Homo sapiens: one gene and its partner. The protein of the gene in region 2 purifies or fractionates together with the protein of the main gene of each other region. This does not show direct contact. Each region holds a gene or a part of one and is shown on either strand. Other genes may lie near its edges.

What was found. The genes of interacting proteins can lie anywhere in the genome.
Region 1: the proteins of SULT6B1 (region 2) and EMB purify together in Homo sapiens (affinity purification with mass spectrometry; one large-scale study listed by BioGRID and IntAct). This does not show direct contact.

The regions. Positions count from the first base shown.
Region 1 is NC_000005.10:50,396,289-50,400,054, forward strand, and holds part of EMB (embigin precursor), read right to left. Parts: intron 3,626-3,766; coding exon 3,571-3,625; intron 3,003-3,570; coding exon 2,985-3,002; 3' UTR 1-2,984. UniProt on the Homo sapiens protein: Plays a role in the outgrowth of motoneurons and in the formation of neuromuscular junctions.
Region 2 is NC_000002.12:37,185,645-37,190,167, reverse strand, and holds the start of SULT6B1 (sulfotransferase 6B1), read left to right. Parts: upstream 1-1,497; 5' UTR 1,498-1,527; coding exon 1,528-1,726; intron 1,727-2,700; coding exon 2,701-2,813; intron 2,814-4,523. UniProt on the Homo sapiens protein: Sulfotransferase that utilizes 3'-phospho-5'-adenylyl sulfate (PAPS) as sulfonate donor to catalyze the sulfate conjugation of thyroxine. Involved in the metabolism of thyroxine.

The DNA.
Region 1 (3,766 bases), on a different chromosome or scaffold from region 2:
CAAAATTTAATTTTTATTTATACATTCATCCGTTCAATACACATTTCAAGAAAGCTGTATTGCACCCTTTCAGTGGTAGTTACAGGACAAAGAAACAAAATAATCCAAGAGAGAGACCAACAAATGTATATTTATAACACAGAGTAATAAACACAAATAAATGTGGAGTTATTTAAGCATGTAAGATGGTACATGCTCTACCAGGTATGGGGGCTTCTCTAAGACACAAGATCAGATTAAAGTCTTGAAAGATAATCTGGGGTTAGTCAAGCAGGTAGAAGTGTGAAGAGCACTTTCTGAGCGGAATCTCCATGTGCCAAGTCTAGTTCAAGAGACTGGATAGAGATTAGCAATTTGGAGAATGCAATATTAAGAAATGGCAAAGGTGAGCCTACAGAGATTCCAAAGTTGCATAGTGAGGTTTGTGTTTGAGAAAGTGGACTCAGGCAGCCACGCAAAAGAGGGATTAATAGAAAAGGAGACTGAGGTAGGAAAATCAAGGCATTAGTGTTGCAGCAGGTGTGGGCAGAGTTGGGGAGGCAATGGGATGGATTCATGAGCTATTAAAAAGGTCAAAGGAGCAGGGATTCATGACCCATAAGTATTAATTAATACAGAAGAAGAAAATATCAGAATGAGTTCTAAATTAGGGCCTGAGCAGCTAGATGTTGGGATAATAACAAAAAGACTGCAAAAGGAGAAGATTTACACTTTGGCAAAAAATGTATATGAAAGTATCTGGGAATTTTATGCCATCATTAAATCTACTTATTATGCTGAAAATCCTTGTTAGCTGGAAAGACTAAGAGAATTCCCCAAGGTGCCTAATATATAAACTTGGAGTAGTTTTCCTACTTCAACTTTTATGCGGCTTATTATTTGCAGTCAATTTATATTTGGTCAATATTAGTTAATTCATTTATCATCTCTGTAAGATTGGTTAATGGAAGCAGATTAAAATCCAACAGTGGTAATTTTCTGGAAGTCCTCCAGAGAGACTACAAAAAGCCAAAAGTCAACTTTAATTTTTGAGTACTTTTCCTATTTAAGGTTACTGAGATAAATTGTCTTTGCTAGAAAAAAATAAACAGTATTGCCAATTAAAAACTCCATTTACTATAGAAATATTCCTGATTATTTTACCTTTGGGAAGCAATGCTTGTTGCTTGAAAATTGTATGAGCCTCAATGGTTAGTGGTGGTAAAATGGAAGAATGCATACTGCAGATGGGTTACACATTTGTTTGTGTTCTATATTCCAAGTCACAAATACACTGCTTTGAATTGTATTTAGTCAAACAGCAGATTTGACTAATATTTCCCTGAATTCAAATAGCTTAGATTAATTAAGCTAACTGATTGGTTATCTACCATTATATAGATATTACCCAAGTAATGTTGTCAAAATAATAATTAATTAAACTAAAATAAATGTATGGCCCTGAGACCAGAATAAAATGAAAACCAAGAATAAAATGAAGTTTGCCATTACCGGGATGTATTCAAGTTCAGCAAACTTATATGTGTAGTTAAGATGCTTTACAACAAAATATTGCATTTTGTTATAGCAACAAAGTATTGAGCAGCTTCCAAGTCACTACCTTATGTGTATTATTCATACTAGTAATATTGGTAAACATTAGTGATACAATTTTCACTACCAAAATTTTATTATATTTTTCTTAGCCAATACATGGAGCAAATTTTTATAAAGTATTTCTTGTCAAATCATTGAATTCCTCCTCCCCAACCTTTAAATTCCCTAGTCGCCAAGAATCTTGGGTTCCACACCACCACTCTTTGCTTCTGTTCTTAAAGTTGTTGCCCTTTGAGCAGTGGGACACTTCATGGTCATTTATGTTATCTAGTATCTTGTGGTATGATTTTAGTATTCATTCAAGCATTGACAACTTTTCATGTTGATTCAGATTTTATAAGATTTGATTACAGTGAGTTTATAAAATATTTCAGTTATATATGCAATAGAAACGAAGTATCCTATTTTGGAAGATAAGTCTAAGGCATTCACAGCAATAAAAAAGAAGTGCTTTAGTATTTCTGGACTTCAGTCAAGGGAATTATTATTGTAAAGCACTAATAATGCAGGTTTAGATATTTAACCAGCCATAGATACCAGGAAGCCAGGTGTTAAATCAAAGAACCAGGAAACCATGAGCCACAAAAGCATCAGTGTAGCAGTGTTTTAAGTATTACGACTATATGGACCTGCACCCTAAAACATAAACAATGGTGTACCTTATGAAGTTAAAAACCCTATTTAAGACTAAGAAGCACTTTAGCCTGGTGGGGAAAGCAGTGGTTATGAGTGGAATAAAGACTGGAAAATTTGCTTTTGTAGTGCAGAGCTTTAGAGCAAGCACAGTTTTATTTATTTGCCTTAAACCAATATTTCCGGATAAAAGGTATATTTTTCTTGTGGAGATTGTAGAATAACTATCATTAGCAAAGGCAGAAAGTATTCATTTCAACTTAGTAAAGACATATTTTTTCACTATCACAGAAAGATGACCTTTACATAAAAATTGTTACATATACTTCCATAGATACTAATAGTAAGTATGATTTTTTTTTAAAAAATAACTTTCTAAGACAAATGGCAAAGGCTTTCTTTTTCATGAATTCTTTGGTTATAAACAGGTTTTGAGTGATTTTTGTTCTATGAAGTATTAAGTGATTCTGCTGATATCTGTTCTGTGTGTCCTTTGAAGACCAGAATATAATTAATTTTATTCTGGTCTAACATATTTATTCTGATTTACATTGCTTTTATGTAACATAATTACAGAATGAAAATATACCTTTAGATCTGACATATATCGTTGATGAAGCTCCTGCTGAGCATGTTGCATAAGCTTTTCATCCTTTTAAAACTAAAAACTCAGAGGCTCTTAACAGGAAGGATAAACAAAGCTGAAATACGAACTCTGTATATCTTCCAATGATTCTCGACATGATGTTTTGTATTCACTGGCCCAGAGACTCCTGAGTTAAATAAAGCATAATCAAATATAATTAGTATGTTCTGGTTATTTTATAGTAACTTACTATCACTTTAGCAAAGCAAAAAATACTGGGAAGTGAGGGATCCAATCTACTGCCAAAACAGAGCTCCTACTCTAATGTTGATGAACTAAAAATTTTGAATCTAATCAGCAAAGAAAGTTAGCTTATATGCATAAGTTTATACCCCCAAATATATGGGAATAAATGAAACTAAAATAACAGAAAATCCAGAAAATTTTAGAGGAAAACAAATAAAGCTACATGAAAAATTGTAAAAGAAACTAGTCCGTGGTGATAAAATAAAATATGTAGCCAGTGCAAAAGATTTACTTCTAGATTAGTTGCTATGTGCCCTCTGGTGGAAAATGATTTATTTTTGTATAACTATACTGTATATTTTCCCCTATAATAGTGTTAACAAGCATATTTGAGCACATCATAAATGACCAGATCTTTTATGGAACTAAAAAAAAGTAACTGATTGATAGATAGCCTATGTATATTGAATTTGACCTTTTATTTGGAATATCATTCAGAAGTAACTTACATTTTTTCTATGCCTGGGGACATTATTTTCTATACCATTGCTATCATCTGATTTCCTGCACAGAAAACAAAAAAGAAAATTACTAAATGCTTATATTATATAAAATTAAGTCAGTACATCACTGATATGGCTATCAGGTTAAAATGTAAAATGTCAATACGGACAGAATTCTTTCTTCCTAAAAATGTTTTACTTA
Region 2 (4,523 bases):
ACCAGATAGGATATAGGCTAAACTGCTATAACTTTTGAGTAATTGCAATTGTAATTGTTGAGACTCCAATAATTCAGTGGCTCAAACAAGATGAACAATTATGCTCTTTCACATACAGGTCAGAACGAGGCCTGTTACACAGTGTGAGTCATGGGAGGGTGGCTCTCTTTCTCAAGGCCATCCAGTAAGCTGGCTTCCTCTGTCTTGTTAGTCTGCCACCCCCTGGAGTGCTGCTTTCCTCCGAATTAGCAAATCTGGTTTGCCAACACAGTATCTGCCTTCCAGGTATGGGGAAGGCACTAAAGAAAATTGGAGAGCCATCAACTTACTGTTTTAGCCACAGGGCCACACCAAGCTGCTGGGAGATGGGAAGTGTGGGCCAACTTACCCAAAGGAAAAAGGGGAGAGTGGCTGCTAGAGAAAGAGCGTACCCTAGGAAATGTTCCAGGGAGAAGCACCTTCCCCGCACACGCATTAAGAGACACAATGACGTAGTATGACCTTCTGGGGGCACTACACTAGAAAAGGGAAGAAAGCCTCAGATGGGCATGTGTACAGCTTCCTAAACACACTGCACATGCTTACTTCCCTGGGGTAAGGAGGGCAGCCCACCCTAAAGGAAGAATCATGGGAAAGTGGTGTGAGATGCTGGAAGTGGGCCAGCCTATGAAGGCCTAGCATCAAGGTTAAACATTTTGCACTTGTACTTGAAGTCATCCACTTGGGTGTCTTCTAAGTGTGCTTTCCTTTCTTTCCTGCTCTAAAGCTTTTAATAAACTTCCACTCCTGCTCTGAAACTTGCCTCAGTCTCTTTTTCGGCCTTACATCCTCAGTCAATTCTTTCTTCTGAGGAGGCAAGAATTGAGGTTACTGCAGACCCATATGGGGTAACTCAGATACATTTCCACTGTTAACAATTTTACATAAACTTTTAGAGATATATTATCATTAGCTCAGAGTAACACAACTAGTAAATGGTAGAGTCAAGGTTCAAACTCAGGTCTTTAGACTTGTGTATCTATTGAGCCAGTAAATGAGAGTGCCTAAGACTGCCCCCAAATCTGGTCTCTTTTCCACCCCACCAAATTACCTCACAATCCCATTGCTTCCTTTCACACCACAGAGGATATGTGTGGAAATCTATCAACCCAGAAGAGAACTGAGGTTTCATTCTGTGAATTTCTAATAGAAAAATTGCATGCCTGATTAAATACCTATTTGTTAGATATTTAATATATATTTTCTTCTATTAGGATATTCCATTCTTACTTTCATTGGGCAGGTTGCCGAAATGGTCATGTAATCAGCCCTTGGGGTAATATTCCCTGATCCTCAGCCTGTTTTGCACCTGTGGTTTAGCTTTTCCCAGGAGGATATGTAATAGTGAGGGAGGGGTGGATGAGAATTAAATGATTTCTTTTTCATGTGACTGGGAGGAGCCCTTTATTCCAGCCCCTGCCCAACTCCATTAAAAGCAATCACTCCCCCTGAACAGCCACAGAGCAGGTTCTTTTACAGGGAGCCACCATGGCTGATAAATCCAAATTTATTGAATACATTGACGAAGCTTTAGAAAAATCAAAAGAAACTGCACTCTCTCATTTATTTTTCACCTATCAGGGGATTCCTTACCCCATCACCATGTGCACCTCAGAAACTTTCCAAGCGCTGGACACCTTCGAAGCCAGACATGATGACATCGTGCTAGCATCTTATCCAAAGTGCGGTAAATGACAAGTCGTTTCCTACAAGTACACTTCTCATAGTGAGTAGGTTGGGGAGGGTATGAGACAAAGGTGGGATGAAGGCGGTTCCTCATTGCAGGAATCTGTCTGAGCATCAGTGAGGAGGAGGGCCACAGTGGTTAAGTACGTAGGTTGTAAAATCAGTAAATAGAACTGCTAGATTAAAAAACTCCAGTGTCTGAAGGAAGAGCTCTGTGCGGAAAGGCCATGATGGAGGATGGAGGGCAGAAGGGGGTGGATGACGGGCCTGGAAGGGAGGAGCATGAATGTGGGAAAGTCCAGTTGGCAAGGAACAGTGACAGTAGCAGTGATTTTGTCTTGATTTCTGGCTGGACAAAAGCACAGCCACTTCTATAATTTACATGATGATTTCCATGTTATAAATTATTTTTCAGGATCAAATATTGCTCCATCAGTTTCTCAAATCACTTTTACAAAGATCCTTCATCAACGGAAAATAAGACATGAAGAATCTAGATGATCCTGCTTTCTACCATCTCCTTTTGATTCTTTCTACTGTTGTTTACTAAAGCCAACCTCATTTAATATCTTTTTTTCTTAACTGATGCTGTGTTTTCATAAAATCAAAATTATAGATTCCTGTAGAAAATACATATTAATTTAATGTAAAATAATATATACAACTTATAATAAACTATTTCTATAACATAACATTGTCCTATAAGAAACATATTCTAGATTCAAAATGAAGCATTGTCCCTTGTTAAAGGAGCCATCTGTTCTCAGTTGAATTTTATACTAATTATAGGTAAATGCTGTTTTCAATCAAACCATTTCTTTCCATAGCCCAAGTTATTTCAAAGACAGAAGAACTAAATATACACATCAGGGAATGGTTGTAGATTTTAATTTTTATCATGTATATGCTAAAGTAACGTCCTTTTGTTATATCAAGACTCCGTAATGAGTTTTTATTCTCTGATTTTTCTGATAGGTTCAAACTGGATTCTCCACATTGTCAGTGAATTAATATATGCTGTTTCTAAAAAAAAGTATAAATATCCAGAATTCCCAGTTCTTGAATGTGGGGATTCAGAAAAATATCAGGTTAGTACAACCAGCCTTTAACCTTACAGCAAATTATCATAGAAAGATTTCTTCCGGTTTGGAGATTCTTTAGTTTTCAGTTTAGAAAGTGCAATGCTAATAATTACCACAATTTACTGTGTGCTTACCATATCCTCAGCACTGTTCAGGTATCATCTCATTTTCTGCAAAATAACCTTATTACCATTTCACAAAAGATAGAAATGCTAGGGACTTGCCCAAGGTCAAGGGACTAATAAATGATAGAGCCAAGATTTGAACCCAAGTTTTCCAGTTTGAGCTTTTAACAACTATACTGTATAGCCAGGCTGTTTTTGTTCTTTTTATTTTAAGTAGGGGGAAAGTAAGCTGAGAAACCTCAGGAAATGAACAGAAAAGTCTCATCTCTGAAGACATGGACCTGTGCAGGATGGTAGTAGGAATCACCAGTCTTTTCCTAGTAAACCATGATTTCTATTTGAAATGGAGTCTCACTTCATTGCCCAGGCTGCAGTGCAGTGGTGTGATCATGGCTCACTGCAGCCTCGACCTCCTGGGCTCAAGCGATCCTCCTGCTTCACCCTCCTGAGTAGCTGGGACTGCAGGCACGTGCCAGTACACCTGGTTAATTTTTTTTAATTTTTTTTGTAGAGGTAGGGTTTCATTTCGTTGCTCAGGCTGGTCATGAACTCCTGGGCTCAAGTGATCCTCCCACCTCGGCCTCCCAAAGTGCTGAGATTATGGGCATGAGCCACCGCACCCAGCCAGACATGATTTTTGATTTCCCTATCTCAGTTATGATTCACGTGTGTGTAAGGGATGGGAAGGAATCAAGCATTAGCTCAGAGAGTACGCCACTGATGTGTGTGAAGGGGATAACAGGTCACCCTAGCTGTTGTTACTTACCTTCCCAATACAACTAACTGGGTCTTGGATGTGAGATAGGATGTTCTACTCCCTGCCCAGGGAAGGCAAGAAAGGAGTGGGAGGATGGTCTACCTCAGGACTTCAGGGCTTGGACAGAAAAAAGACATGGAAGACAGCCTCTCCCCACTCCTAGACACACCAGAATGCAGCGGGGAAGGGAAGGCTGTATTCAAGGGGGAACCACAGTCTCAGTAAAACTTTCAGCAGTGTTCACCACCAAGATTCCCAACAGGCAGAGAGAACTCAGCTACTAACATAAAGCCACTGGATTGGGACTTAGGGAACAGCTTCTGGAAGGTGACTGAGACACTGGCATGATGACAAATACAAACTTGAAAGTTGGAACCTAGATGGAAGGAAGCCCATTTCCATGGATTAGGTCAAAGTAGCAGAAAAACACATGGTAAAGGGACTCAGAGGAGGGTGTTTTGGAGGTAAGTGCCGAGCCCTGGATTTGGTTGGCAACAAAGGAGCAGGGAGGGTCACCTGTACCAAAGCCAACCTGATGAAGGCTCAGCTGAGACAGGCCCAGGAACGTAGGATGGACCAACAGGGGCAGTAAGAAGCTTTGACCTAGGTAGGAAATAAAGGAAAAGCCCCATAGACTTCTCCTGTCCAGGCCTTTGCATAACCTTTTTCTAAAGAGAGTGCTTAACATCACCTTTAGAAATGATGCCAACATTTATCCAGATTTCAATTTCTCTCTCTCTGTTTTTTTTTTTTTTTTTTTTGAAATGGAGTCTCACTCTGTCACCCAGGCTGGAGTGCAGTGGTGCGATCTCGGCTCACTGCACCCTTCACCTC